Homo sapiens: one gene and its partners. The protein of the gene in region 3 interacts with the protein of the main gene of each other region in a pairwise test. Each region holds a gene or a part of one and is shown on either strand. Other genes may lie near its edges.

Region 1 (3,951 bases), on a different chromosome or scaffold from region 3:
CGCTGCCCTCCCTTTGACTATGGTTTGTTTGTGGCTGGGTAGGAACAGATGCATTTTTGGTTACAAGTAATTCACACGCACAAGTAATTGCATGAAGGTGTGTTTGGGAGTACTCAAAAACAGAAATCTTTCTGCAAGTCTTCAGAGGTGGAGAGATAGGGAGACAGTCTCTGAAAAGGATACACCTTATCCTTATCAGGAATCTTTGGGGAAATCCTCAATTGGGCCTCAAATAGGAACAGAGGTATTAGTAGATTATGACCACTGTTCTAAAACAAAGTGAGCTGTATAACTATGGATCTTGCTGGAGATACCTGAGTATCTGCCCATAGGGAGAATGAATATCCTATGTGCACCGCTTCCACTTAAGATTCCTTCATTTAGATTATTCTTGACAATTATTCGGGCCCCCTCAACTAAACAGGGGAGGAATTTGTTGTCCCTTTTCATCTCAGATAAAGCAAAGCTACAATAAGGTTTCACTCTGGGAGAAGACTGCATTTAAATTCTATTGAAAATCCATAATCTTGCCCTACATAAAAAATAAAAGAAGGTTGGGTGCAGTGGCTCATGCTTGTAATCCTAACTCTTTAGGAGTTGAGACAGGAAGATTGCTTGAGGCCAGGAGTTTGAGACAAGCCTGGGCAACACAGTGAGACCCTGTCTCTAAAAAATTTTAAAAAAAATTTAATTAATTAAAAAAGAAATAGAGGCCAGGAGCAGTGGCTCACGCCTGTAATCCCAGCACTTTGGGAGGCCAAGGTGGGCAGATCGCGAGGTTGGGAGATTGAGACCATCCTGGCTAACACGGTGAAACCCCGTCTCTACTAAAAATTACAAAAAATTAGCCAGGTGTGGTGGTGGGCACCTGTAGTCCCAGCTACTCAGGAGGCTGAGGCAGGAGAATGGTGTGAATCTGGAGGGCGGAGCTTGCAGTGAGCCGAGATCGTGCCACTGCACTCCAGCCTGGGTGACAGAGTAAGACTCCATCTCAAAGAAAAAAGAAATAGAAAAGAAGTCCAACTCCTCTTCTACTCTTCCCTCCTCCAGACTACTGACTTAGTCACAATGAGTAGGCACCACCTCTATCATCTGCCCCTAATCACTGAACCAGCTCCACCAGCTCTCACCATTCTGATAGCTTTGGACTGAAAGCTATGTAGATAACATCTAGAATGTGGACATAGCATCTGACAGGAAGTAAGTGGAATAGATGGCATGTAAGAGGACCAGTATCGATCTCTAGTATCTTCCAATTACCTTTTCATTGTGATAAAGCATAGCCTGGCTCAAACTGGAGTTACCATTCTCAGGTTTGGCAAACTTTAGAACACCCTCCCAGAATTAAGACCCTGCAGTAGAAAAGCAAGGCTGCCTGGCCCAGCTCTGGCATTGATATGGTTTGGATTTGTGTCCCCGTCCAAATCTCATGTCGAATTGTAATACCCAATGTTGGAGGAGGGGTCTGGTAGGAGGTGACTGGATCATGGGGGAGGACTTCCCCCTTGCTGTTCTCATGATAGTGAATGAATTTTCACGAGATCTGGCTGTTTAAAAGTGTGTAGCCCTGGCCGGGTGCAGTGGCTCAAGCCTATGATCCCAGCACTTTGGGAGGCCAAGGCAGGCGGATCACCTGAGGTTGGGAGTTCGAGACCAGCCTGACCAACATGGAGAAACCTCATCTCTACTAAAAATACAAAATTAGCCAGGCATGGTGGTGCATGCCTGTAATCCCAGCTACTCGGGAGGCTGAGGCAGAAGAATTGCTTGAACCTGGGAAGCAGAGGTTGCGGTCAGCCGAGATCGCGCCATTGCAGTCCAGCCTGGACAACAAAAGCAAAACTCTGTCTCAGGCTGGGAGCAGTGGCTCATGCCTGTAATCCCAGCACTTTGGGAGGCTGAGGCAGGCGAGTCACGAGGTCAGGAGATCAAGACCATGCTGGCTAACACGGTGAAACCCCGTCTCTACTAAAAAATACAAAAAAATTAGCCGGGTGTCGTGGTGGGCACCTGTAATCCCAGCTACTCAGGAGGCTGAGGCAGGAGAATGGTGTGAACCTGCAAGGCAGAGCTTGCAGTGAGCCAAGATCACGCCACTACACTCCAGCCTGGGTGACAGAGCGAGACTCTGTCTCAAAAAAAAAAAAAGAAAAAAAAACTGTGTCTCAAAAAAAAAAAAAAAGCGTGTAGCACCTTTCCTTTCTCTATCTTCCTCCTGGTCCACCACGTAAGACATGCCTGTTTCCCCTTTGCTTTCCGTCATGATTGTAAGTTTCCTGAGGCTTCCCCAGCCATCCTTCCTGTACAGGCTATGGAGCTGTGAGCCAATTAAACCTCTTTTCTTTATAAAATACCCAGTCTCAGGTGGTTCTGTATAGCAATGCGAGAACAGAATAACACAGCCATTAATTCAGTAACTGCAAAGTCCCGCCTCAGCTCTGGAAAAGGATTTGGAAAAAGGAACAGAGATAGAGGGAGACAGATTTCTAATGTAAAAGTCATCTCCCTTTCAATATTCATTACCTTAAAGCAGGGACTGATGGTTGAGGGCCAGCGCACAGGGTCCTTGAGAATGAGGCTGACCAGCTGAAAGATGCTTGTAGCATAGAAGGGAGGGGTGCCTACTGCCAGTTCATATAGTATGCAGCCAACAGACCAGAGGTCCGCTGTGTGGTCGTATGGTCGCTCCTCCACCAGCTCTGGAGACATATAGAGTGGTGTGCCTTTGATGGATGTCAGCACCATTGTATTGGTGCTCATAGCCCGGGCAAATCTGCAGAAGATAATGGGATGGAAATGGAAAGGGAAAAGATATTCTAAACCTGGTCACTACTACCTAACATAGAGATATCCCAAACCGGAGCAGAGGGAGCACCTTTGATTAGGTTCCAGAAGACCCAGCAGCAGTCCCAGCCTCTAGCTCCGGTTCTAAAATGAGGCCCAAATAAGTCAAGAGTATGGTCTAAGATTCCCTGTGGGGCCAGGCTCAGTGGCTCATGCCTGTAATCCCAGCACTTTGGGAGGCCGAGGTGGGCAGATCACCTGAGGTCAGGAGTTCGAGACCAGCCTGACCAACATGGAGAAACCCCATCTCTACTAAAAATATAAAATTAGCCAGGCATGGTGGCACATGCCTGTAATCCCAGCTACTCTGGAGGCTGAGGCAGTAGAATTGCTTGAATCCGGGAGGCAGAGGTTGTGGTGAGTGGAGATCGCACCATTGCACTTCAGCCTGGGTAACAAGAGTGAAACTCCATCTCAAAAAAAAAAAAAAAAAAAAAGATTCCGTGTGGAACTGGAAGCTTAGATGGATGCTCAGAATCTTTACCCAAAGTCACAGAGCTTGATGCCACCACCCTTGGCGAGGAGGATGTTCTGAGGCTTCATATCTCGGTGTAGGATGCGGTGGGAATGCAGATAGTACAGGGCTGACACCAACTGGGCAGCAATGGCCTGAACCTAGAAATTAAAGAGGTGGAAGAAAGAAAAAAAAGGTTAGAAACAGCAGCTGGCTGACAAGCCCAAAAATTTCTCTTAATATTACTGCTAATCTTTTCTTCCTTCCCTTTCTTGCAGAGCTTCACACTATTCTTTCTTAGTTATTGTTCCCCTTGTTTAATCACTCTTTCATTTGCTCATTCATTCATTCAAGAAAAATTTATTGAATCTCATTTACTATCTGCTTGACCATGGGCAAACTAAGGTGACAATCTATATAATAACACCATCTACATGGAGGATTATTGTGAGGACTGAGTTAAAGCATGCAAAATAATACTCAGAATGGTGCCTGGCACATAGTAAATATTCAATACACATTACCTGTTATTAAATAAGACAAAATGCCTTTTTTCAAGAAAAGTAGTCAGACAAACAAACAAGACAGATAAAACAAATATGGTGGTCGGGCGTGGTGGCTCACACCTGTAATACCAGCACTTTGGGAGGCTG
Region 2 (3,951 bases), on a different chromosome or scaffold from region 3:
CTTGAACCCGGGAGGCAGAAGTTGCAATGAGCCAAGATCAAGCCACTGCACTCCAGCTTGGGCGACAGAGCGAGACTCCGTCTCAAAAAAAAAAAAAAAAAACATAAGGCTGCTCTCTGAACTGATTTTAAAAGATCTCCATTATATAGTTTTAAAAAATTGTTCTAGGGGCCAGGTGTGGTGGCTCACATCTGCAATCCCAGCACTTTGGGAGGCCAAAGCAGGCGGATCACCTGAGGTCGGGAGTTCGAGACCAGCCTGGCCAACATGGTGAAACGTCTCAACTAAAATACAAAAATTATCCGGGCGTGGTGGCAGGCGCCTGTAATCCCAGCTACTCTGGAGGCTGAGGCAGGAGAATCGCTTGAGCCCGGGAGGCAGAGGTTGCAGTGAGCCCAGATCGTGCCACTGCACTCCAGCCTGGGAGACAAGAGCAAGACTTCATCTCAAAAAAAATAAAAATTAAAAAAAGTTCTAGGCTCGGCAATAAGACAAAAAAAGCTGACAGCATGCCATTTCCAAGTCATCTGGGAGTCTTGTCTAACAGACCCACCCAAAGTTTGCTTCATATTCCAAGGCAGCAGTCCTCAACCTTTTTGGCACCAAAAACTGGTTTCGTAGAAGATAATTTTTCCATGGATGGGAGTGGGCAGTGCCTTAGATTTTCATAAGGAGTGTACAACCTAGATCTCTCGCACGTGCAGTTCACAATAGGGTTCACGTTCCTGTGAGAGTCTAGAGCCACCGCTGATCTGACAGGAGGCGGGGCTCAGGCAGTAATGCTTGCTCACCAGCTGTGCAACCCCATGCCTAACAGACTACAAACCGGGGGTTGGGGACCCTATTCTAAGGGACTGTACCTGTATTTGATTTACTATTCTTTTTTTTTTTTTTTTTTTTTGAGACAGAGTCTTGCTCTGTCGCCCAGGCTAAAGTGCAGTGGCGCGATCTCGGCTCACTGCAACTTCTGCCTCCTGGGTTCAAGCGATTCTCCTGCCTCAGCCTCCTGAGGAGCTGGGATTACAGGCATGCGCCACCATGCCCGGCTAATTTTTGTATTTTTAGTAGAGACGGGGTTTCACCATGTTGGCCAGGCTGGTCTCGAACTCCTGACCTCGTGATCCGCCTGCCTCGGCTTCCCAAAGTGCTGGGATTACAGGCGTCAGCCACTACACCCGGTCTGTTATTCATTATTGATTAGAGTCTAGACTTCGACAAGGTAAATGGTAACCCCAGGAAGTTTGGTTGCAAATGATTTCTCTCTGGTAGAAAAGGTAACCTCAAAGGTTACAGTTGTATTGTCCTGTAGGTCTTTAACCAGTTTTGTATCTAACCTGGCAAATTTTCTCCAGCCCGTCTTTCCTGACTAAACCTATCAACTTCTGTTCATCAAATTCTCCTTTTTTTTTTTTTTAATGGAGTCTTGTTCTGTCGCCCAGGCTGGAGTGCAGTGGCACAATCTCGGCTTGCTGCAAACTCCACCTCCTGGGTTCAAGTTATTCTCCTGCCTCAGCTTCCCAAGTAGCTGGGATTACAGGCATGAGCCACCACACCCAGCTAATTTTTTGTATTCTTAGTAAAGACAAGGTTTCACCATTGTTAGCCAAGCTGGTCTCGAACTCCTGACCTCAGGCACCCGCCACCACGCCCAGCTAATTTTTGTATTTTTAGTAGAGTCGGGGTTTCACCATGTTGGCCAGGATGGTCTCAATCTCTTGACCTCGTGATCCACCCACCTCAGCCTCCCAAAGTGCTGGGATTACAGGCGTGAGCCACTGCACCCGGCCCAAATTCTCCTTTGAAACAGCTGGTTCCTTCATTCATGACTTAAATAAATCTTTGACCTGTGCTTATTATATATGCGTCAGAGAATCAGATTTGTTTTTTGGGGTTTTTTAAGAGACAAGGTCTCCCTCTGTCATCCAGGCCGGAGTGCAGCGGCGTTGCCATAGCTCACTGCAGCCTCCAACTCCTGGGCTCAAGTGATCTTCCCACCTCAGCCTCCCAAAGTGCTAGGACTACAGACATGAGCCACCACACCTGGCCAAATGTTTTTCTTTTTTTCCCATTTAATTGCACTTTGACAATAAGTGTTTGTGAATGTTATTTTATATATTGTATATGACCAAACCATATATATTTATTATTATTTGTGTTATTATATATTATAAATATTATAAAATTATAATATTTATATATTCAAAGGAAACAAGTATGGTGCTGGGCAGTATGTATACCTCGCAACCATTTGTGATTTTTAAAACAATGCAGATGGCCAGGTGCTGTGTCTCACACCTATAATCTCAGCACTTTGGGAGGTCAAGGTGGGCAGATTGCTTGAGCCCAGGAGTTCGAGACCAGCCTGGGTAACATGGCAAAACGCTGTCTCCACAAAAAAAAAAATACAAAAATTGGTCAGGCATGGTGGTCCGCACCTGTAGTCTCAGCTACTCAGGAGGCTGAGGCAGGAGGATCACTGGAGCCCAGGATTTGGAGACTGCAGTGAGCTATGAGCATGCCACCGCACACCAGCCTAGGCAATAGAGGAAGACCTTGTCTCAATAATAACAATAAATAGGCCAGGTGCAGTTGCTCACGCCTGTAATGCCAGCACTTTGGGAGGCCGAGGCAGATGGATCACCTGAGGTCAAGAGTTCAAGACCAGCCTGGCCAACATGGCAAAACCCTGTCTCTACTAAAAATACAAAATTAGGCAGGCGTGGTGGTGGGCGCCTGTAATCCCAGCTACTCCAGAGGCTGAGGCAGGAGAATCACTTGAACCCGGGAGGCAGAGGTTGCAGTGAGCCGAGATCACGCCATTGCACTCCAGCCTGGGCAACAAGAGCGAAACTCCATCTCAAAAAAAGAGTCATAATAATAAAGTAAATTTAAAAATAAAAATACAATAAAATAAAAATACAAAAATTAGCCAGGCATGGTGGTGCATGCCTGTAATCCCAGCTACTTGGGAAGCGGAGGCAGGAGACCCTCTGGAACCTGGGAGGTGGAGGTTGCAGTGAGCCGAGATTATGCCAGTGCACTCCAGCCTGGGAGGCAGAGTGAGACTCCATCTCAAAAATAATAAGTATTATAATTATGAATTAATAAACAAAATGAGGCATTGATTTTACTCATGTGTAGAATATACACTTGTATATGCGTAGAAAATTCCCAGGAAGGAAGCAAGCTACTGGCACCAGTGACTGCCTCTGGGAAGGAATGCTAAAGCCATATCTTGTCTCTATAGTTTGGATTACTTTTTAATTGTGTGTGTGTGTGTGTGTGTGTGTGTGTGTGTGTGTGTGTGTGTGTGTTCTTGTCAAAAGCAAAAACAACAATAAAATCTTCAAAAAAGCAAACAGAACATGAAAACCCTCTGAGGGTTCCTCATTGCCCTCATTAGGATGGACTCAGAAAACCTCTCACCCTCCACAGCTATTTGCATAAGCCGTTTCCTGGGCTAGGAACGCCTCTCCCCCACCCCAAAGCCCCTCTCACCAGCTAACCCCTTCTCCTCCACGTCTCAGCTCAGCTACTTTCCCCAGAGAAAGCAACCTACGCCCCTAAACTGGATTTTACACACACACACACACGCTCCCTACCTCCTTTTCTTCAAGACACAGCTTGTATTAAACGACATATTTATATGTTTGTTTATCTATCTCTCTCCCTCAAATTCTATCAGTTACCTGAGTTCAGGGACTGGTAATATCTCGGTTCCTGCCATGTCCCCAGCACCCCCAATAAATATTTGAAACATAAGAAAAAGAATTAAAAATGGATGGTGTTTATTGTGAGCTCCCACTCTTCCGTTCCTCTCACTGTCCTTTCCTTCTCATCCCTCACATGAGGAGGGGGACAGATTCTGTTTATTTTAAGTTGAGATTCTACTGTTCATTCAGTAAATATTTTTTGAATGCCTTCCCTGCTCTAGGAACTAGGAATATAGGA
Region 3 (3,951 bases):
GGGATTATAGGCGTGAGCCACCACACCCAGCCTAATTATTATTTTTTTAAGACACAGTTTCACTCTGTTGCCCAGGCTGGAGCACAGTGGCACGATCTCAGCTCACTGCAACCTCTGCCTCCCAGGTTCAAGTGATTCTCGTGCCTCAGCCTCCGGGGTAGTTGGGAGTACAGGCACATGCTACCATGCCTGGCTAATTTTTTGTATTTTTAGTAGAGACAAGGTTTCACCATGTTGGCCGGGCTGGTCTCGAACTCCTGACCTCAAGTGAGCCACCTGCCTCAGCCCCACAAAGTGCTGGGATTACAGGCATGAGCCACTGTGCCCAGCCAAAAAAAATCTTTTTAAAATATAGATGGTAGCAGGCCGGGCACAGTCGTCACGCCTGTAATCCCAGCACTTTGGGAGGCCGAGGCAGGCAGATCACGAGGTCAGGAGATCAAGACCATCCTGGCTAACATGGTGAAACCCCGTCTCTACTAAAAATACAAAAATTAGCTGGGCGTGGTGGTGGGTGCCTATAGTCCCAGGTACTCAGGAGGCTGAGACAGGAGAATGGCGTGAACCCGGCAGGTGGAGCTTGCAGTGAGCCAAGATCACCCCACTGCACTCCAGCCTGGGCAACAAAGCGAGACTCTGTTTCTAAAAAAAATAGTTGGTAGCTTATTGGAGTACATGATATAATTGCTCAAAAGGCAAGAGAATACAGTCATTAACAGTATGAACTCTGAGTTGGGCACAGTGGCTCACACCCATAATCCCGACACTTTGGGAAGCTGAGGTGGAAGAACTGCTTAAGCCCAGGAGTTTGAGACCAGCCTGGGCAACATGGTGAAACCCTGTCTCTACAAAAAAATTACAAAAATTAGCTGGGCATGGTGGTGCTTGCCTGTCGTCCCAGCTACTCGGGAGGCTGAGGTTGGAGGATCACCTGAGCCTAGGGAGGTCGAGGCTGCAGTGAACCATGATCATACCACTGCACTCTAGCCTGGATGACAGAGTGAGACCCTATCTCCAAAAAAAAGCATATAGGGCAACAAACGGAAGCAGACTAAGATAAAAAAATAAATAAATACAGGTTAAAAGGAAGTAGGTAAGATAGATAAAGGATAAGAGATGAACAGATTTGTGATAAAGCAAGTATAAAGTTAACAGTAGAATCTGGGTTGTGGGTATATGAGTGTTCACTATAAAATCCTTCCAACTTTGCTTTATGTTTAAAATGTTTCATAATAAGCTAGGGGAATAAAAGGAAGTAGACACAGAGGCATCAGCCCAAGTTCTGAGTCATAACCATGCTACCTTCCTGTCCTATGAGCCCAAACTCCAGGGCAAGCTTAGAAAAACCTGATTTGGGAATCCTGCTCATCAAGACTTTCCTGCACTAGATAAGCAGGAATCAGGTGTTAACGAGGACCACCTTGGCATGAGTAGATATAGTCAGAGGGCAGAAATGCAGAGGTTCCACGGAGAAGTACCATGCTCACAGCACTATGACATTGTCACCCCTGCTCAGGAAGACCTCAGGAATAAGGCTCTGGATAAAGAACAGGTGGCATATACTCACTCATGGACTCTGTTGTCACCATAGAGATCACTCAGGCCGAAGCTGATGTAGTGCCAGTGCTCGGGGATGTTAGCAGAAGGGCTCCCCACATTCCTGTACATGCTAACATAGTCCAAGGGGTCTGGGCCACCCAACCTGCAAAAAACAAAACACAGGGGTGTTAGTGTAAGCCTGGAAATCAGACAATGTCAAGCTAAGGCGCTCTACTTTGTAAACCTAAAGGACCCATCCTGGAGGAACCTGGGTGAAAGGTAACTAAACAGAGGCCACATCTCTCCAGAATGAGACTAAGGGATGGACAGCTAAGGCTGCCCAACTCTGCAAGCCCAAGAGGCTCCCTTCTCCTACCCCTGAAAGACTGGGCCTCTTTTAGAAATAAAACAGACTGGATGGTTACCCATTTTGCTTTCTCCTGTTTCAAATTACCGATCCCAAATGAGATTGGCAGGGATTGTCTCTCTTCTGTGGTGCCTGTATACATGCCAAGCTTCAAGGCAAGAGGTACATCAGTCAATCAATTGGCCTCTGTTGAAAGACCATCCCAAGCATCCCCAATGGGCATTGTTCCTGGAAGCAGAGGCTCTGCTCCACTCCAGCCTCTTAGACAGCTAATTCCTGAAAGACTATATTGTGCCCTATGTTAATTACAGTTTGTTCTAAACAAACCCAAAGCCTCTAGTCTGTGCTGACACCAGCCTGCACCCCATAGACCAAAGCTGGTCTCTTATCATTGCAAGTGACAAAGGCCAAACTTAGGCTTAACTTAGTTCTGCACAGAGAACTGCAGAAGGAGTCAAACTGCGCCCTGTGAGCATCTGCACCCAGAAAATGATCCCAGGAGAGACTGCCACATCAAAGGTAGAGCTGGGATGGTAAATGATTTGGGGCCTCTCAGGACCACATTAAATTTCCCCCACCATTCAACTGAGAAGGAGTTGCGGAAGAGATTCAGTTATTATCTCACTCTGAGGATTTAATACAATAAGAGTTCCCTTTAGTAATCAGTGCTTTTTAAAAAAAATCCTGTTTTGGCCGGGCACGGTGGCTCACACCTGTAATCTCTGCACTTTGGGAGGCCGAAGTGGGTGGATTACTTGAGGTCAGGAGTTTGAGACCAGCCTGGCCAACATGGTGAAACCCCATCTCTACTAAAGATACAAAAAATTAGCCAGGTGTGGTGGCAGGTGCCTGTAATCCCAGCTATTTGCTATTTGAGAGGCTGAGGCAGGAGAATCGCCTGGACAACAGAGGCAGAGGTTGCAGGGAGCCAAGATTGCGCCACTGCACTCCAGCCTGGGTGACAGAGTGAGACTTTGTCTAAAAAAAAAAAAAAAAAAAAAAATGGATAAGAAATTTTGGTAGCTAGAGAAATAGACCAAATAGAAACCATCAGTGGAAGGAAGTCTGCATTTAGCCCACAAACACGGCATTTGAGCTGCCTCAAACATCTGACCATTCCACAGACTGCAAAAGCTTCACCTGCCCCTGGGACATCGATGGAGTACACTTTGCAACTGGGATAGCATGCTGGTGGAAAGCTAACAACCAAATAAAAGACATGTTACAAGTGATCCCAGTCAATGGTGCCAGCACCAGGCAATTTAAACACTATTTAAAACCAGTTGGTCTTGTTTCGTCCTCTTTCACCAGGATATTATTTGCCTTTGTGGATAGAAATCCCTATTCTCTGTTAGGAAATGCTAAGTTATTTATAGAACTTTTAAGAAAGTTGCTACAAATAGCTTAGCATCTCAACAGAGGAAGAGGGACAACTCTCCATGTCTGCCTTAACTGATTTCAACAAATCACTTGACTAATTCTACAACAGGTTGGATTTAGAAAAGTTTGTGGGGCAAGGGAAGAAAGAAAAGAGTAGAGATCCCTGGAAAGACCCCATTAGAGCTACAGAACTCCAGAGCAGATGAGAGCCACTACAGGCCCCATACCTGCTCCAGTTTCCTGCTGCAAATTTCCAAACCTGCCCCGCTACAGCCTAGGTCCATCCTGCACCAAGCTGCAAAACTGTGTTTACCATTCTCTGCTCCATCTGCAGCATCCCTGCAGCCCTCTTTCTCACCAAGTCTCCCACAAGGTGTCACATCAAGGAGAGAAGCTTAACCTTCAAACTCCAACTGCAAGGAACTACCAAGAGTCAGATAAAATTAACCCTGTCCCCAAGCACAGAGTATTCTGTTTACTTACTACTCAGAGGCCAGATGAGTATGTGGAAAAAAATCGCATTTTACACTTAGCAAATGATGTTATCCAAGGTCCCAGGGCATCCCTCAACTTAATTCCTTGAACACCCAACTTCTCTCTGCAGGGCAGTTGCAGGACTGAAGTGGGCCATGAGTACAGGTTCTGCCTCTCTGCTTTGATCCTTG
Region 4 (3,951 bases), on a different chromosome or scaffold from region 3:
GCAACAGTTCTGAGGCCCGTGTGGCTGGAACTCAGTGAGAAAGGGGAGAGAGTGGGAGGTGAGGGCAGAGAAGGAGCAAAGGGGTTCAGCATGGTGGTTCATGTGTGTGATCCCAGCACTTTGGGAGGCCAAGGCTGGGGGATCACTTGAGCCCAGGAGTTCAAGACCAGCCTGGGCAACATAGTGATACCCCGCCTCTACAAAACAAATACAAAAATTAGCCCAGCATGGTGGCGTGCTCCTGTAGTCCCAGATACTAGGGAGGCTGAGGAGGGAGGATCACTTGGGCCTGGGAGGTCAAGGCTGCAGTGAGCCAAAATCATGCCGCTGCACTCCAGCCTAAGCAACAGAGCAAGACTTTGTCTCAAAAAGAGAGAGGGCCAGGTGCAGTGGCTCACGCCTGCAATCCCAGCACTTTGGGAGTCCAAAGCGGGCGGATTGCCTGAGACCATGCAAAGGGGGTCAGATCATGCAATGCAAAGCCTTTTAGGCCACGATGAAGATTTAGGCTTTTCTCCAATTGAGAGTAGAACTGAGGGAGGGCATGAGCTGACTTAGGTTTTGAGAGAATCCTGCTGGCTGCGAGGTGGGGAACAGACTGTAGGGAGCAAGAAGCAGGGAGCCCAGTGAGGAAGCGACTGCGATAGTCCAGGTGGAAGACAAGACAAGATGGTGGTCAGATCAGGGTGGAGACAGTGGCAGTGGTCCCCAGGACTGCTGGCTGGGAGATTGTGCTTGGATGGGCATGCATGAAGGAGAAATGGAGGAAGAAGGGCAGTGACAGGTTAGCACATTTAGCTTAGCACTAATGGCAATGCCAGGCATTGTCCTAAGTGCTTTATTATTGTTATTATTATTATTATTTTGAGACGCAGTCTCGCTCTGTCTCCCAGTCTGGAGTGCAGTGGCGTGATCTCGGCTCACTGCAAGCTCCACCTCCCGGGTTCATGCCATTCTCCTGCCTCAGCCTCCCGAGTAGCTGGGACTACAGGCGCCCACCACCACGCCCAGCTAATTTTTTTGTATTTTTAGTAGAGACGGGGTTTCGCCGTGTTAGCCAGGATGGTCTAGATCTGCTGACCTCGTGATCCACCCACCTCGGCCTCCCAAAGCACTGGGATTACAGGCGTGAGCCATGGCGCCTGGCCTTTTTTTTTTTTTTTTTTTTTTTGAGACAGAGTCTCACTCTGTCATCCAGGCTGGAGTGCAACGGCGCGATCTCGGCTCACTGCAAGCTGCGCCTCCCAGGTTCACGCCATTCTCCTGCCTCAGCCTCCCGAGTAGCTGGGACTACAGGCACCTGCCACCACGCCCGGCTAATTTTTTGTATTTTTAGTAGAGACGGGGTTTCACCATGTTAGCCAGGATGGTCTCGATCTCCTGACCTTGTGATCCGCCCTCCTCGGCCTCCAAAGTGTTTTTTGTTTGTTTGTTTGTTTTTGAGACAAGGTCTTACTCTGTTGCCCAGGCTGGAGTGCAGTGGCACGATCTCGGCTCACTGCAACCTACGCCTCCTGGGTTCAAGCAATTCTCCTGCCTCAGCCTCCCGAGTAGTGGATATTACAGGCATCCACCACTGTGCCCGGCTACTTTTTGTATTTTTAGTAGAGACGGTTTCACCATGTTGGCCAGGCTGGTCTGGAACTCCTCACCTCAGGTGATCTGCCCACTTCGGCCTCCCAAAGTGCTGGGATTACAGGCGTGAGCCACCGTGCCCGGCCTATTATTGTTATTATTATTTGAGACGGAGTCTCGCTCTGTTGCCCAGGCTGGAGTGCAGTGGTACTATCTCGGCTCACTGCAACCTCCACCTCCCAGATTCAACCAATTCTCCCGCGTCAGCCTCCAGAGTAGCTGGGATTTCAGGTGCGTGCCACCATGCCCTGCTAATTTTTGTATTTTTAGTAGAGACAAGGTTTCACCATGTGGACCAGGCTGGTCTGGAACGTCTGATCTCAAGTGATTCGCCTGTCTTGGCTTCCCAAAGTGCTGGGATTACAGGCGTGAGCCACCGCGCCTGTCCTGTCCTAAGTGCTTTACATGGCCTAACTCATTTATTCCCCACAACCGCCCTTTTGGGGTAGGTACCGTTTTTTCTTCCTCCGTTTTACAGAGGGGTAACTGAGACACAGAGAGGTTAAGTCACTTGCCCACAGTCACACAGCCAGTAAGAGGAAGTGGCTGGATTTGGACCTAAAATGTCTGGCTGTGGAGCCCAAGCGCTTAACAACACCAGGAACCTCAGAGAAGGGTGTGATTCCGGGGACAGAGTGGGGCCCTAGACAGACTGGAGCAGAGACCGCCTGGTGCGGGAGGTGGGGCGGTGACTCAGGCAGGCCTGGAGAGGGCTCTGCTGTCTCGGATTTTCGACTTTAGGGAGGGGGCCGCGGGGGCCTAGGGACGGTGACAGGGAGGAGGGCTCCAGGTAGTCTCTGTTAATTAGAGATTGGGAGAGGACCGGCCTGGCAAGGCGTCACCAAGGGAGAGGAGAGGGGCCCGAGAGCTGATAGGCGTGGCCCAAGAGAAGGGGAGAGATGGAACCTAAAGTGGCTTGACATGCGACAGGGAGGGGCACAGGAGCCCGGAGGAGCATGGGGAGGGGCAGAGGGAGACTGAGCCCCCGGGGTTGCGGGTGATGGTCCTCAGGCAGTGCCTGATTCAGCCGGGAGCAGGCAGGGGAAAGCCACGGGGCTCAGCACAGGGCAGGGCTGGAGGGAGAGGAGCCTGAAATTGACACGCGCAGCCTGGTAAGGGGGAGGGGCATGGGGCGGGTCGGGGCCTGAGACAGCGGGGGATCGGGGGTGTGGCCGTGGCTGTCTGGGTTCAGAGTCAATCTTGCAACAGGGCCCCCTTGGCAAGGGTCACAGTGCGACGCCGCGCTCCCCTTCACCACCCCAGCTCGGCCCAGCGAGAGGTGCAGCACGTGCAGGCCGAGGGCGGGGCCGGCGCGGAGAGGGTGGCCCTGCATCGTAGTAGGTCCCTCCCCCGCAGTGCTCCCAGCAGGCCCGCTCGTTCTGGAGAAGGGCGTGACTCGACCTGGGGGTGGACCCTAGGCTGAGGGGTAGGGTCCTCCGGTGGGCTTGGTCCCGAAATTGACCCGCGCCCCTCCCCAGTTAGCCCGCGGACCGTGGACTGTATTTTCAGCCCCGGATCCGAAGTGTCCCAGGGGGCGTGGCCCGTGCGAGGGGCGGGGCCTGGGGGCGGGACCAGAGCCTGACGTGTGCCCGCCCCGGCTTCTAGGCGGATCGTGGACCGCATGGACCGCGCGGGGGACGGCGACGGCTGGGTGTCGCTGGCCGAGCTTCGCGCGTGGATCGCGCACACGCAGCAGCGGCACATACGGGACTCGGTGAGCGCGGCCTGGGACACGTACGACACGGACCGCGACGGGCGTGTGGGTTGGGAGGAGCTGCGCAACGCCACCTATGGCCACTACGCGCCCGGTACGCGGCGAGCCCCCGACCCTGCTCCCCATACACCGTGACCCTGACCTTCTGGACCGCCTCATTCTGAGAACCCTGAACCCATTTACCCGGAGTCCCTGGCCCCTAACCAGGCTCTACCCACTTTTAGGAGCCCATAACTGTGAGATCTTCAGTTTCTCACCTCTGGCTTCTCTTTTTTGTTTTTCGTCTGCTTATTTTTCTGGTATTTAGCTGCATGCTAAAAACGATCTTTTTTTCAAACATGAAGTCACAATTAGGTGCTAAAAGCCACTGAACGCACCCAAACAGGGACTTGAAACCTGGGCCCTCAAATTAAAAGTCCAATGCTCTACCAACTAAGCTACCCAGGTTCCCTTCAGGGCTTTCATTCTGGGACTCACCACCTCTGTGACAATATGACTAGGGTACTTGAGATCCCTGGCCAAGGACACCTACTTTCCATGCCTTGTCATCCTGACCCCTAACTTCTGTGACCTCTCATCCTGAGAACCCCAAAGCCAGTTAC
Region 5 (4,693 bases), on a different chromosome or scaffold from region 3:
GATGCTGTCTTAATAAGTAAATAAATAAACAAAAAAAACAGACAATGGGTATTGTCTTGTGGGAAGGTCAAAGAATAAAAAAGAAAAGGCCAGGTGAGGTGGCTCACGCCTGTAATCCCAGCACTTTGGGAGGCAGAGGTGGGTGGATCACCTGAGGGCAGGAGTTCGAGACCAGCCTAGCCAACATGGTGAAACCCCATCTCTACTAAAAATACAAAAAGTTAGCCGGGCATAGTGGCAGGTGCCTGTAATTCCAGCTACTTGGGTGGCTGAGGCAGGAGAATCGCTTGACTCCAGGAGGTGGAAGTTGCAGTGAGTCGAGATCGCACCATTGCACTCCAGCCTGGGCAACAAGAGCAAAACTCCGTCTCAAAAAATTAAAAAAGTAAAAAGAAAAAGACAACAGAGAAAACAAGGTTCTTCTCTACCTCAATCCTCTTAGCATCTCTGGGAGGAGAAACAGCTTTTGCTTCCCTGTATGGAGGTCTGGGGGGTTCTCACCTCAGCCCTGCCTCAGCAAAGGGGGCCTTGGAGAGCCCAGGGCAGCGGGGAGCAAGGTGCTGGCAGAAGAGGCTGCTGAGAGCCCAAGATCAGACTGTCCGCACCCCAGGCCAGCTCTTGCGGTGGATTCTGGGACCTCCCTGCAGGCCGCTGCAGAGGTTCGGGCCCCTGAGCCCATCTCGGGCCGCCCACAATGTCTAGATGGTCACTTTTTAGGCCGTCACCCACATTCCTGGAATATCTCTGGATACAGCTGGAAGCCCACAGGCGGGTCCAGGTCCCCGCGGACAGGAGTCAGGGTCACAGACAGCCCCCCAGGGCGCCGGCCCCTACGCCCCTCGCCCCCGGGCCGATGGACCCATTGGTGCTTGGCCATGCCGGTCTTCAGGCCGAAGCAGCGGCCACACTGCGGGCAGCGGTAGGGCTTCTCGCCAGTGTGAACGCGCAGGTGAGAAGTCAGCGCCGTGCGGCGCATGAAGGCCCGACCACACTCGGGACAGCGGTGGGGCCGCTCCCCACGATGGATGGCCCGGTGTTTGCTCAGGGAGGAAGCGTGGCCGAAGCCCTTGCCGCAGTCTGCGCAGTGGAAGGGCTTCTCGCCCCTGTGGCTGTAAATGTGCTCCACCAGTGTGGAGCGCCAGGCGAAGCTCTTCCCGCACACGTAGCAGCCGTGACGCTGGTCAGCTCGGGGGACAGGGGGGTGGGCAAAAAAGCGGGGGCGACTCCGGCGCCGGGCCTTGGACAGCTGCTCCAACCCGGCAAAGGGGGCTTGGGGAGCCTTCAGCCCAGGAGACCCGGCGGCCACAGGGTCGGGCTTCTCCAGGGCTCCCGTCCCTTCCCTTTGTCTTTCCTCTTCCTTGTTTCTGGAATCTGCTGAAAGATAAGGAGGCGAGAGTTCAGGCTTGGCTCATCCTGGTCATTGAATCCCACAGCCCGCGTGGACAGGGACAGGCCTGCTGGACCCCCGACTGCTCCTAGGAGATGGAGGAGTGACACCTGTTCCTCGGCTGCAGAGCCAGACAGAGCCTGGAGGGAGGGAACAGTCCATTCCGCCTCCGGGCTGGGGAAATGTCACCGCGGGGGAAGGGCAGAGATGACGTGAACATCTGGGCCTGATCTGGAATAAGAAGCGGACACCTGGGGATATTCCAGGCAGAAGGAACAGCACCAAGAAAGGCAGAACCAGGAGGGCATGGCCAAGTTCAGTGGGGCTGGATACTCTGCAAAAGCTGAGGCAAGAACTAAAGGAAGGAAATGGGAGGGCGGGATGTGGGGGCATAGGAACCATAGTGCAGGAAAACGACTGGAGCGGGTCATGATGTGGAGGTAGAGTCAACAGAACCTAGAGGCCGGGTGCAGTGGCTCATGCCTGTAATCCCAGTGCTTTGGGAGGCCGAGATAGAGGATCGCTAGAGTTCGAGACCAGCTCGGGCAACACACCAAGACCTCTACCTCTTTAAAATTTTTTTAATTAAAAAAAAAAAAAAAAAACCAGCCAGGCGTGGTGGCGAGTGCCTTTACAGTGTTAGGTACTCTGGAGGCCCACGCGGGAGGATTGGTTGAGCCGATTGCTTGAGCCCGGGAGTTCAAGACTGCAGTGAGCTATGATGGCGCCACTGCACCTCAGCCTGGGCAACAGAGACCCTGTCTCTAAAACAAAACAAAACAAAAAAGTCCCCGGAGTGTAGTGACCACGCAGAGGTGAGGACTCAGGGGCGGGTATGGCAGGGCCAGAGCCCCCATCACAGCCCCTTTCTAGGCTGCATCCCGGAGCCAGGCAGGGGCTCAGCCTCCTGGCCGCAGTTGAGGAGGCAGTTCAGAGAGGAAACTGCTAAGCAGGTAGCTGGAGGTGGCAGAGGGTACCGGGATGGGACAGGAACAGAGAAGTCCCCATGGGACTGAGCACCCGATACTCCACCTGGGTCCGCTTCTGTCGGACACTTCGCCACCTCCGGATCCTGGGCAGCCGGATCCCACAGTTCGGCCTTCTCCTCCACCCAGGAGATGAGCGCCGGCTTGCTGCCTCCGACTCCTGGGGGAGAAGAACGCAAACCCCACGCTGCGAGGAGGCCGCCTGCCCGGCCCCGGGGCCCCCAACTCCACACGCAGCTCCCAGAGGCGCGGCAGGGCCTGTGGAGGCGCAGGGCCCAGGCAAGCAGGTGGGGCTCTCACCGAGCGCGCCCAGGTGGCCGTAGGTCTCCCGCATCACGTCCCGGTACAGGGCCCTCTGCGCGGGCCGCAGGCAGCCCCACTCCTCCCGGGAGAAGTACACGGCCACGTCGGCGAAGCTCACGGCCCCGGGCTTTCTCCACTCGGATCCCGCCCCGTTTGGGTCCCGGGGAGGGAGCGGGGCCAGAGGCGGCGCCATGGGGACTGTCAGCCCCAGCGACGGATCGGTCATCTCCCCTGGCCAGGCCTGGGCATGCGGAACCTCCCGCGCCCGAGAACACTTCCCCGGCCCGGTACCAAGGGAAGGAGGGACGTCAGTAGAGCCCCCGAAGGCCCACTAGAGGGGATGGAAACTAAGGGCCGATGGCTGCGAGTCCATGGTCAGAACTGGACGATGTCTTCAAATAAAACGGCGGCAGCGCGACCTCTCGACCTTTGCCCCTGCGCAATTGTACCCACGACGACGCCCCCCTCCCCGCGCCCCCGCTCCAGGCCCAGTTCTCTCCTTGCCCTAATCCAAAATGGCCGTTGCGGCTACAGGCGCCGGCCTTGAAAACCAGCCGCGCATGCTCCGGCCCCGCCAGGTGAGGCGGCGCAGCTCAGAGCTTCCGCCCGGGTTTGCGGGAACAAAGCAGCGCCCTGCGGAAGGCAGCCCTCGTGAACTCAGAAGTTAGTTTTCGTCTCTGGACCTTTTTATAATCGGACTTCAGCCCATCACTGTCTCGTTTTGTCCTCAGAAACGGCGACAGCAGCCTCTTCCCAATGTTGAGAGCAAAAAGTGTGAACCCAGAAATTCCGAGACAGATCTCAATTACTTGCCAAGGTTGAGGACGCGCGCGTGACAGCCTCAGGAAGTCCTCACGACATGTGCCCAAGGTGGTCTGGGCATAGCTTAGTTTTATACATTTTATGGAGACATGAGACATCAATAAATGTATGTAAGAAGTACATTGGTTCTGTTTGGAAAGGCGGGGCAACTTGAAGCAAAGGCAGGAAGACGTGAAGCAGGAAGGGGGCTTCCAAGAAACAGAAGGTGAGGCACAAACGGTTGCATTCTTTTGAGATTCTGATTAGCGTTTCCAAAGGAGGCAATCAGATATGCATCTGTGTCAGCCAGCAAAGGGGTGACTTTGAATAGACTGGGAGGCAGGTTGGCCCTAAGCAATTCCCAGCTTGACTTTTTCCTTTAGCGTAGTGATTTGGGGGGGTCCCAAGATTTATTTTCCTTTCACAAAAGCCATGGAGTGGATACAGGAGAACCTCCTCTATTGTAGGCTTTTTGGAGCTTGAAATTCTGGGAGCTTCTAGATGGCGGAAGCAGCGGGGAGAATAGGGTAAGGCTGAGAAAGTCAGAGGGCCCTCTCTTCTAGGAGCTTCTCCCATGTGCTGTGCAGGACGCCTCCCGACCGCCTGTCTCCCTCTAGCTGCAGCCAGGCTCTTGGCTTCCCTGACGTCCTGCCCCTGCGCGGATGGCCCAAGGCTCCTAGGCTCAAACCCAGCTCATCCCTTTCTTACCCCAACCTGCTTCCCCTGGGGTCTTTATCTCAGTAAAAGTCGCCAGCTCTCCCCTGAGACCTCCTTCTCACACTTCCTGATGGCCTACTCTGTGCTCCACGTGACTTCATACATGTCCTGTGTACTGGAGTCAGAGTCACCTCCAACGCGCCTTTTAGCTCTTAGTGGGTTCTTTAGTTGAATCTAGGCCCAGATTGAGAATCGCCTGTAATCCTGGCGCCTGGGAGGTCGGGGCAAGAGGATTCCTTGAGTCCAAGAGAATGAGATCAGCCTGCTCAACTTAGGAGACCCTATCTCAAAAATAAATAAGAAAAAATGAATCGACAGCAGACAGACTAACAGGAGGAAAGAATACAAATTGTACCTGTTTTACATGTACTCAGGCATCTTCACAAGAGAGAGCAGTCAGAAAAAGTGGCTGAAGCCAGGTGCTTTTATATTTCTTTTCTTTTTTTTTTTTTTGCAGAGACAAGTGAACATTTATTTTTATGTCTTTCTTCCTATGTGT
Region 6 (4,567 bases), on a different chromosome or scaffold from region 3:
AATTCCCAACCAAGAGGAAAAAAAAATAATGCGACAGTCTATAAGTACTAATGATAAAAGGAAGCAGAGAAAGCTTAGTAAACTCAGAACTAAGATTAGAGGACAGAGGGAGTTTGAGAAGGTTTCTAGAGGAGATAATGCCTAAATTGAGTCTTACGGTATTAGCAGAGGTTAAGCACAATTATAATTTCATGGATGTGTGTGTTTGAAAAGTGGGGGGGTAAATGAGGTTAGAAAAAGAAGACAGTGAAGTACGACCCTGTCTCAATAAGAGGATGCAGCATTTGCAAAAGTAAAAGGCATTAGATAAGCATGGCATATCACCAAACTGCAAATACTTTACAACTGTGCTGTCCAATACAGTGGCTCCTGAGCACCTCAAATGTAGCTATTCAGAATTGGCATATGCGGCAAGTGTAAAATACATGTGGAATTTTGAAAACTTAGTACATAAAACAGACCATAAAATAGCTCTTCTATAATCTTTCTTACATTGACATATGCTAAAATAATATTCTGGATATATGTGACTTAAAAATACATTAAAATTTCACCTGTATTTTATTGTGTGTCTACTGAAAAAAATGGATATAGCTCACATTCTATTTCAAATGGACAATGCTAGTTTAAAAGGATGGCACTGGCTGGGGAGTAGTGCTAAAGTAATAATAAGTGGGACTGGATCGGGTGGAAGATAATATCACAAGAAGAATCTCTATGTCATTAATAAGTTGGTTGGAAACCAAGGCTCTTCAGTAGGGTTAATATTATCAGATCTGACATTTGCAAGGATCCATCTCCAATCTAAGAATTGGAGGGCAGGAAAGCTGGAGGAAGAATATCAATTGGTCTCGATAATCACTGACAGACAGTGTTTTGAAAGTAGTATAACTAGAGATACAGAGTACGGAACTGATTCCAGAAATGTTTTTCAAGTAAGATAAACTACACTTGGTGACAGATTAAATATGAAGTCTGAGAATAGAGAAGAACTTGAGTAAATTCCAAAGTTTTGGGCTTGCAAAATTAGGAGAATGTGGTATTCAAGCAGGACAGCTTTGGCAGGGAAAGGTGATGGGTTCAATATTGGACATACTGAGTTTGGGATGCCTATGGATAGGAAATTTATGTGGAAATACCAAAAATTAGCTACAAAAGTTTGACAGTAACTCAAAAGTTCCAGATCAGAAATAAAAAATTGGGAGAGTGTTAATAAAACACAAATAGTGTAAGCCAAAGGAGAGGAAGAACACAGCCAAGAACACAGAGTAAAAAATAGAAGACGGAAGACTGAAGACTGGATTATTGGGAAAAACAATAATGAAATATGGTGGGCCGAGGAAGAAGATCCCACAAAGGAGTTGAAGAATGACAGGCAGATGAAGAACCCAAGAGAAGGGTAGCATCTTTATTTAATGGGCTTCCATTGTGTCCTACAGAATTATAGTTCCACAATATGTGTAACGGAAGAGATGTGACTCACAAAAGAAGAAAAATCTCTTTTCCAAAGTCACAAACTACTTTTTGATATTTAAAATGATACTTTGTCAACTTAGAGAATCAAAACAAACTATTATTTCCTATAACTTATTTGGATAAACATACTAGCTAACATGGGAAATCACAAAGTGAAATATTTAAAATGGTAATATAGAATTTAAATGTGGAACAACTGGAAAAAAACATAGATTAAAATAACCATGCAAAAGAAAGAGGGAATGAGTAAAGAACTGGAAACATCGGTTTTACCATTCTAAAACACATATAGCCACTCCCTCTGCCAAAAACTAAATGATGACTTCTGATTGCAAAGATATCTCTAATGCAAGTTCTTAACGTGAAGATAAAGGAGGGGAATAAATATGTATGTGCCCAAGTATACTTTCCAAAGAACAAAGTGAACAAAAAAGGGGTTTATATCAGATGAACTGGACCAGGGCTCTTCACTGTTAAACACTATCCCACGGTCTATCTAACGTAAACATCACGTATCTGAGTACCGACTCCAACTCGAGTATGCCAAAAAGGCACTTTCTTTTTTCTTTTATTTCTAACCATCTTTACTCCTCTCATCCCATCCCTGAAGGATGTATAGAAGTATCACAGCCTGGACAAGTACGGCTTTCCACTCTAACCACAGTTTTAATAATAACACATCTATTATTATCCGAGAGCTACCAAAGCCTCCTTTTCCGTCTTGGCCCTTGGCCCTGCCCCTCCTCTCTAGTCTTGAGTCTCCACGGGCCTCCGGGGTTTTTGTTTTGTTTGTTTTAATAACAACCACTTCTCTAGATCCGCTTGCTCCCTTTCTTCTCTTCTCGGTCCCAGGAAGTAAATACCCTTTCCCAGCTCCTCTCCTCCTAACTTCCCAGTCCCCCCAGTGCCGGTCAACCTCCCTTCCTCGGGACCCTCTCAGAAGCCGAGCTCTTTACTCATTTTCCTAGGTCTTCCTTCTCCTCGCGGTCCCTACATCCTCCCCCATCCCTAATCCCTTCATCTTCCCTGCTTTAAGAACCACCCGCAGGCCCCCATCCACGAACGCCCCTTCACTAGCTACCAGACGCTTCAACCCAGCCTCACCTCGCACCTCCACCTCCCCCGCCGTCTCCACGCCCACTTCAAAGCCCACCTCCAACCCGCAGGCTCTTCAGCAGAGCCGATGCGGCGTCCCGCCTCCTTGCCTTCCCTCTTAGGACCAAACTCCCAGCTGGGGCCTCGGCGTCTGACCGCCAAAGAGCGGGTGCCTGGTTCCTGCGGAGGCTGCCGGGCGGGTGCCGAGGTTGCCGAGATGCGGGAGGTTTGAACACAAGGATGGGACAGAGGCGAGGATCGGGGCTCCTGGGTGGCAGCGGCGGTAACCTGGGCTCCAGGGTAACGGAGGCGGAGGCCTAGACTGCACTACGAAGAGACCGCAGCCAATCATGATGACTCTACCCGAGCTCCCATTGGCTTCTGTCTCCAGACGGCCCTTTTTATTGGCTTCAGTGGAACTGGAAGGCGGGACGGCGAGTGCGGGAGAAGGTCTCCATTGGCCGACCGCTCTAGCTGTAGCGGAGACCCCCAAGTAGGGAAATTGGGGCAAAACGCGGAGCGCTCCAGGCTCCTACGGGCTGTGCGGTGCCAGGGCTCGACTGCTGAGCGTCGTGGGCTCCGAGAGGGACGCGGGCGGAGGGCAAAGTGGGTTCATGATATGAATTGTAAAATTGGCGACTGCGTAATGTAAAACACTTAACAATTGCTTAGATTTCCTTTGGGAAATAACTTGCTTTTAAATTGTAAACAAATTACAAACAAACTGCTAGTGCTTCTGGATCTTCTTACCGAAATGGCTGATTCAGGAGGATGCGGGGTGAGTGCACTATTGTTCCTGCCTCGAGATCCTGGCTGTGAATCACCAACGAGCCGTGAGTTTGGCTTGAAAGTGATTTTTAGGTTTTGGAACGGGTTTGGGGTGGAATGGCATCTGAAATATTTGCACACAAGTTTTTTTTTTTTTTTTTTTTTTTTTTTTTTTTTTTTAAGGAACGTTTTGAGGAGCATGTCAGCCTATTGAGCGCTGATGTGTGACATATTTTCTCTTTTAGAAATGGCATTAATTGCGGGAGACAGGGAAGGTAAAAAAAAATCCTCTTTCGTGAGGGCTTTAAACTGCTCCGAGCCATCTGATTATCAAGGTGGTTTAACACTACTCTGGTGTTCTCACTATTGTTAATTTCTCACTGGCCTTTTTACCACCATTCTGTAGAGAATCTAATATTTGAAGGCAAATGCGTTTAATGAATCTTCTAACCATGAAGATTGGTAATTCCTGCTTCTCGCTCAACCTCGTTTTTCCACCTTTGCACTGTTTCAAAGCTTTCATTTTATCCTGTCAATACATTTTACTTCAAGTTACAGACTAACCCACCCAAACAATATTGTGATTAAATGTAATTTTCTGTATGCGAAATACATCTGTACAAGATGGCAGTCATCTGTTAGTGAAAATAAGATGAGTAATCCCTAAATTGCACGGAATTACTTTTCATCAATTCTTTAATCTGTCTCTGCTGACACTGTTAAAATAGCTCACTCGTTATTATGGACTCTGTTAGAATTAACATGTAAATGTATGGGTGGATTACTTATAAAGGAAGTTGCTAGGAAGAATCAGAAAACATACCGTATTTACGTGGACAAATGTCTGTCACAGGAGCGTCAGATCAGGATTGCTGAAGGAGAGCTGAGAATGAAACCACCATTTATTCAGCACTCAGAATGCTCCAGGCAGTGTAATCTCATTCCATCTTCATTCATGACTCCAGACAGGTATTGTTATTCATTGTTTATACTTGAGAAAGCAGATTCAGAGAAGTTAAAGTATCTACCACAAGGTACGAAAGTAGTAAGTAGTAATGCCAGAGTACAAGCCTAGGTCTGCTTCCAAATTTCGTGGTTTCGGATTTAGTGCCTTCATTGTGTTTCACCTACAGGTTAAGAAGTTGTTGGTAAGCAAGAAAATATTTAAGACGCTGGGAGAATCCAAAAAATTGTCTAGTTGTGTGTAACATAGTCTCAGGATTCTTAC
Region 7 (3,951 bases), on a different chromosome or scaffold from region 3:
ATCCAGCTTCCCCACCTAAGTCCCTGACATTATGGCAGAAAGAGAGGATGCCTGGTTCTCCCAGAGATGCTTGAGCTGGAGTGACTATGATCAGGCTACTGTTGCAGGCAAGTACACTGGCTCAGTCAGCCACGCAGACAGCACCAGCAAACAAGCTGAGATCACAGAAGCACACTTATTCTGCAGGTCTCTGGAGATTTGAAGGGACTTTCTGGGATTGCAAAATCCTCCAGAAAGTAAAATAGTGACCTTCTGTGACTTCTGGCCTTGAATTCCATTCCTGATTTGAGTTGACTGGACACAGAGTTCAGCAGGTCTCAAGCACCATTATTTGTGCCTAGCTTCCAATGCAAATAGTGCCTTATTGGCAAAGGGGGCCGAAAGTCTCGCCAGCTTGGCTGTCTGAAGCTTATATAAGCTGCGGGGGCCTTGTGTGTGCACAGATCGCTCTGACAGAATAACAGGAATGGCTGGATGAACTTCCTGTATCTGAAAACTGTATGAGAGTTTGTTACCTATTTTGTCCCAATCTGTGCTCCTCACCTTGGCTGCAAGGCCCCGTGACCAGAACGATAATCTACTAGAACCAGCAGGGAACAGAGGCAGCCTGTTCTGGGCTATGGGCATAGACAGAATGGCACTACTCTGAAGTTTTCTGGTTGAGAGTGTAAATTATTTTTCCATTTTTTTCCCCAATGGTTAGGACCCTGGGTTTAAGTGAGGTGACCAGGTGGCTGGTGATGCCAACTTGGAGTTACTGTACTAGTAGCTATTATAGCAATTTTATATGATAATTAATAATAGATGGCATTTATTGACTGCTCACTAACTGCCAGGCACTGTGCTAAGGGCTTGACATACATTATCAAATTAATCATCTCAATGACGTTATGAGGTAAATTCTATTACGATCCTAAAGTGGCTCACACTTGCATTGGCAGCTACAACAATTATCTCCACTCCACAATCGCTTTCTCAATGTGACCTTGCCATTGTCTCATCAAGAAGTTGAATTTATTTCTCTCCCTGTTGAATCTAGGATAGTCTTGTGACTGCTTTGACCACTAGAATGTGGTATAAGTGATGTCCAGAGACTTTCGAGCCCAGGTGTTAAGAGGCCTGGTAGCTTCTGTGCTCACTCAGGTGCTATATCAGAAGTTTGACTATGTCAGGCTGTCATGATATGAGGAGGTCTAAGCTAGCTACACGGAGTGGTCACAGGGAGAGAGAAAAAGAGATGCACAATTGAGTCACCAGAGAAGCTAAATGAAGAAGCCATTTTTGGGTGTTCCAGCCCCAGCAGAGGCCACATGATACAGAGAAGAGTTATCCCTGCTGAATTCTGCCTAAATCACAGAATGAGAGAACAAGTGATTCACTGTTGTCTTAAGCTACTAAGACAGTAACTAGATATGATAGCCAAAATAGATCCTCACTTTACAAGTGAGAAAATGAAAGCTGTTCATTCACATAGCTAGTGAGTGAGGAGAGCACCCACCACGAAGTCTACCTCCTGACTCCCACAGCAGGGGTGCTCTCTCCCATCTGCCCCTCCCTCACATTTGTATCAGCTCCTCCACCGAAGCCACATTAACTCTTTGGAGGCAGGGACCATATCTCATTAGTTTTATGTCTCCAAAGCACTTGGTACAGTTCTAGGAACATAGCAAGTTCTCAAAATAATGCTAAGAGTCAGAAGAGCATGCTCATGTGCATCCACACATTGGATCCCCCTAGAAACACTGAGAAGTGGGCTGGACTGTGACTATCATACCCATTTTGCAGAAGAGGAAACTGTGGTTCAGGGATTTGCCTCTTTACCCAAGGGATAAATGGAGGAGCTGAGCCCTTCTGACTCTATTACTCTTGATTTTCCTCCCCTCAGATCCTCAGATCCTTTTCTTATACATGCTTGCACGGACCTACATCCTATCATGCGCCTCATTGACTCCAGGCCATCTCAGCTGCACAAGGATTACATGGACCAACCTTTGATTTGCACCAACGAAGCTGTAGTTAGAACAATGCAAATGACCTCCTGGAGGGGACATCTAAGAAAAGATGTTTAATACCCAAATAGAACTTCAATCCATTCCAGAGATCAGAGGGTGGATTGCTTCATTATTAATACATTTTATTATTTTAATATTTTAATAAATAATTAATAATGAAAGAGACGAGCTTGCAAATCCCAGTGAGTCTGAGAGCTTACTAGATGTCTCAGGTTGGGTTCTCCAGAAGCAGAGCCTGAGTTAGGGATCCTGGAACTCGCAAATCATTAAGGAGTACTCTCAGGAAAAGGGGGAGTGAGGAAAGCAGGACAGGGCAGAGGAAGGCACTAAGCGAGGATGTGGTCTCTGGAATCTGGCTACAGCCTGGTCCTATGGAGAGCTCTATAGCATGGAGCTAGCTCCATGTTGAAGCAAAAGGGCTGGGCTTTTAATTTTAAAGCCCCCTCTTAGTCACTGGCTGAGCCTTGGGGGGCAGGGCCTAACCTTCTGGGCCAGGTGTCCTCAGTGTGGGTAAGGGCAGGTCTCTGGAGCAGTGGGGCAGCTGAAAAGGGGCGGCTGCAGATGTTAACAGTCAACATTTACTGCAGCAGCCTGGTAAGAGATATTTCCGTGGGGCACTACAGTGTCTATTGCACCTGCTGTGATTCAGTATCTGATGATCCTTGGGAGTCAGAAGACATTTCAGGCCTCAAAACTCATATGCTGTGAGATGGGAATCCCCTGGAAACTAAGATCCATAATACTGGAATTTGACAGTAGAGAGTTAAAATTAGCACAAGGACACCAGGTCTTTCCTTGGCCCACTTACCAGGGCACGTAAGGATTCTGTCTCAGCCTGGAGGCTCTGGACTTGGCACGAAGTGTTGTGTAACTCCACCCTGAGGGCAGCTGCCAGCTTCTCCTCCTGGGTCTGGGACATGTGGGCCACCTCCGCCTGTTGCTGTGGAGAGTCAGGTCTCAGTGTGAGCGGTGATGATCAGAAATCTGAGCCCATCCTTCCTTCCCAGCCTTTCTAATCACCACTCCACTGCCTCTAACCAGAGGAAATACAGCTGTCACGTGGAAACATCTTTTTTTTTTTTTTTTTTTTGTTGAGATGAAGTCTCGCTCTGTAGCCCAGGCTGGAGTGCAGTGGTGCGATCTCAGCTCACCACAACTTCCTCCTCCTGGGTTCAAGCGATTCTCCTGCCTCGAGTAGCTGGGATTACAGGTACCCGCCACCAGGCCTGGCTAATTTTTTTTGTATTTTTAGTAGAGATGGGGTTTCACCATGTTGGTCAGGCTGGTCTTGAACTCCTGACCTCAGGTAATCCGCATGCCTTGGCCTCCCAAAGTGCTAGGATTACAGGCGTGAGCCACCACGCCTGGCTGGAAATGTCTTTTTTTTTAAACAGGTCCCTTCACCAACTTGTATACAAAAATGTATTTATTTTGAACATACGATGCCTGCAAATGAAATACAATTCAAAAGATTTCCTACAGACTATAAAGTCTCATTTTCTCCTGTGTCTTAATTATCCAGTTCTCTTGTTTCTAGTTTCTTATTCCTCTTTCCAGAAATAGTTTATATATTTATAAATAAATATGTATTGCCCCCCCCGTGCTTTGGTACTTAAAGTATCTTAGAAATTATTCTATATCAGTACATATTAGGTTGGTGCAAAGGCGATTGCAGTTTTCGCCACTACTTTCAATGGCAGAGACAGCAATTAATTTTGCACCAACCTAATAGAAATTGAGTACATTCTTTATAGCGGCTGCACAGTGTTGTCTTGTTTGGAAGGGCTGCAATGTATTTAGAAGTCTCTGCTGGTGGACACTCAGATTGTTTCTAGTCTTTCTTTCTCTATTACAAACAATGGTGCAAAGAAAAAGCTTTGATCCCTTATTTTTCATACAAGAGCATGTCTTTGAGAAAGTAGTTCTTGTAGTAGAACTG

The links.
Region 1: the proteins of SUFU (region 3) and STK36 interact in binary tests that used the Homo sapiens proteins (3 or more experiments, as listed by UniProt).
Region 2: the proteins of SUFU (region 3) and CRX interact in binary tests that used the Homo sapiens proteins (3 or more experiments, as listed by UniProt).
Region 4: the proteins of SUFU (region 3) and RCN3 interact in binary tests that used the Homo sapiens proteins (3 or more experiments, as listed by UniProt).
Region 5: the proteins of SUFU (region 3) and ZNF747 interact in binary tests that used the Homo sapiens proteins (3 or more experiments, as listed by UniProt).
Region 6: the proteins of SUFU (region 3) and LCA5 interact in binary tests that used the Homo sapiens proteins (3 or more experiments, as listed by UniProt).
Region 7: the proteins of SUFU (region 3) and BFSP2 interact in binary tests that used the Homo sapiens proteins (3 or more experiments, as listed by UniProt).

Annotation. Positions count from the first base shown.
Region 1 is NC_000002.12:218,674,851-218,678,801, reverse strand, and holds part of STK36 (serine/threonine-protein kinase 36), read right to left. Parts: intron 3,460-3,951; coding exon 3,329-3,459; intron 2,774-3,328; coding exon 2,524-2,773; intron 1-2,523.
Region 2 is NC_000019.10:47,828,257-47,832,207, reverse strand, and holds part of CRX (cone-rod homeobox protein), read right to left. Parts: intron 1-3,951. UniProt on the Homo sapiens protein: Transcription factor that binds and transactivates the sequence 5'-TAATC[CA]-3' which is found upstream of several photoreceptor-specific genes, including the opsin genes.
Region 3 is NC_000010.11:102,506,920-102,510,870, reverse strand, and holds part of SUFU (suppressor of fused homolog), read right to left. Parts: intron 2,593-3,951; exon of another isoform or gene 1,965-2,592; intron 1,703-1,964; coding exon 1,568-1,702; intron 1-1,567. UniProt on the Homo sapiens protein: Negative regulator in the hedgehog/smoothened signaling pathway. Down-regulates GLI1-mediated transactivation of target genes. Down-regulates GLI2-mediated transactivation of target genes. Part of a corepressor complex that acts on DNA-bound GLI1.
Region 4 is NC_000019.10:49,530,953-49,534,903, forward strand, and holds part of RCN3 (reticulocalbin-3 precursor), read left to right. Parts: intron 1-3,240; coding exon 3,241-3,443; intron 3,444-3,951. UniProt on the Homo sapiens protein: Probable molecular chaperone assisting protein biosynthesis and transport in the endoplasmic reticulum.
Region 5 is NC_000016.10:30,531,778-30,536,470, forward strand, and holds the start of ZNF747 (zinc finger protein 747), read right to left. Parts: upstream 3,082-4,693; 5' UTR 2,903-3,081; coding exon 2,674-2,902; coding exon of another isoform or gene 2,534-2,673; coding exon 2,420-2,533; intron 1,375-2,419; coding exon 722-1,374; 3' UTR 1-721.
Region 6 is NC_000006.12:79,534,536-79,539,102, forward strand, and holds the start of LCA5 (lebercilin), read right to left. Parts: upstream 2,896-4,567; 5' UTR 2,630-2,895; exon of another isoform or gene 2,581-2,629; intron 1-2,580. Other genes in the region: SH3BGRL2 (SH3 domain-binding glutamic acid-rich-like protein 2), read left to right, coding at 3,326-3,349, 4,193-4,308. UniProt on the Homo sapiens protein: Involved in intraflagellar protein (IFT) transport in photoreceptor cilia.
Region 7 is NC_000003.12:133,465,829-133,469,779, reverse strand, and holds part of BFSP2 (phakinin), read right to left. Parts: intron 2,953-3,951; coding exon 2,821-2,952; intron 1-2,820.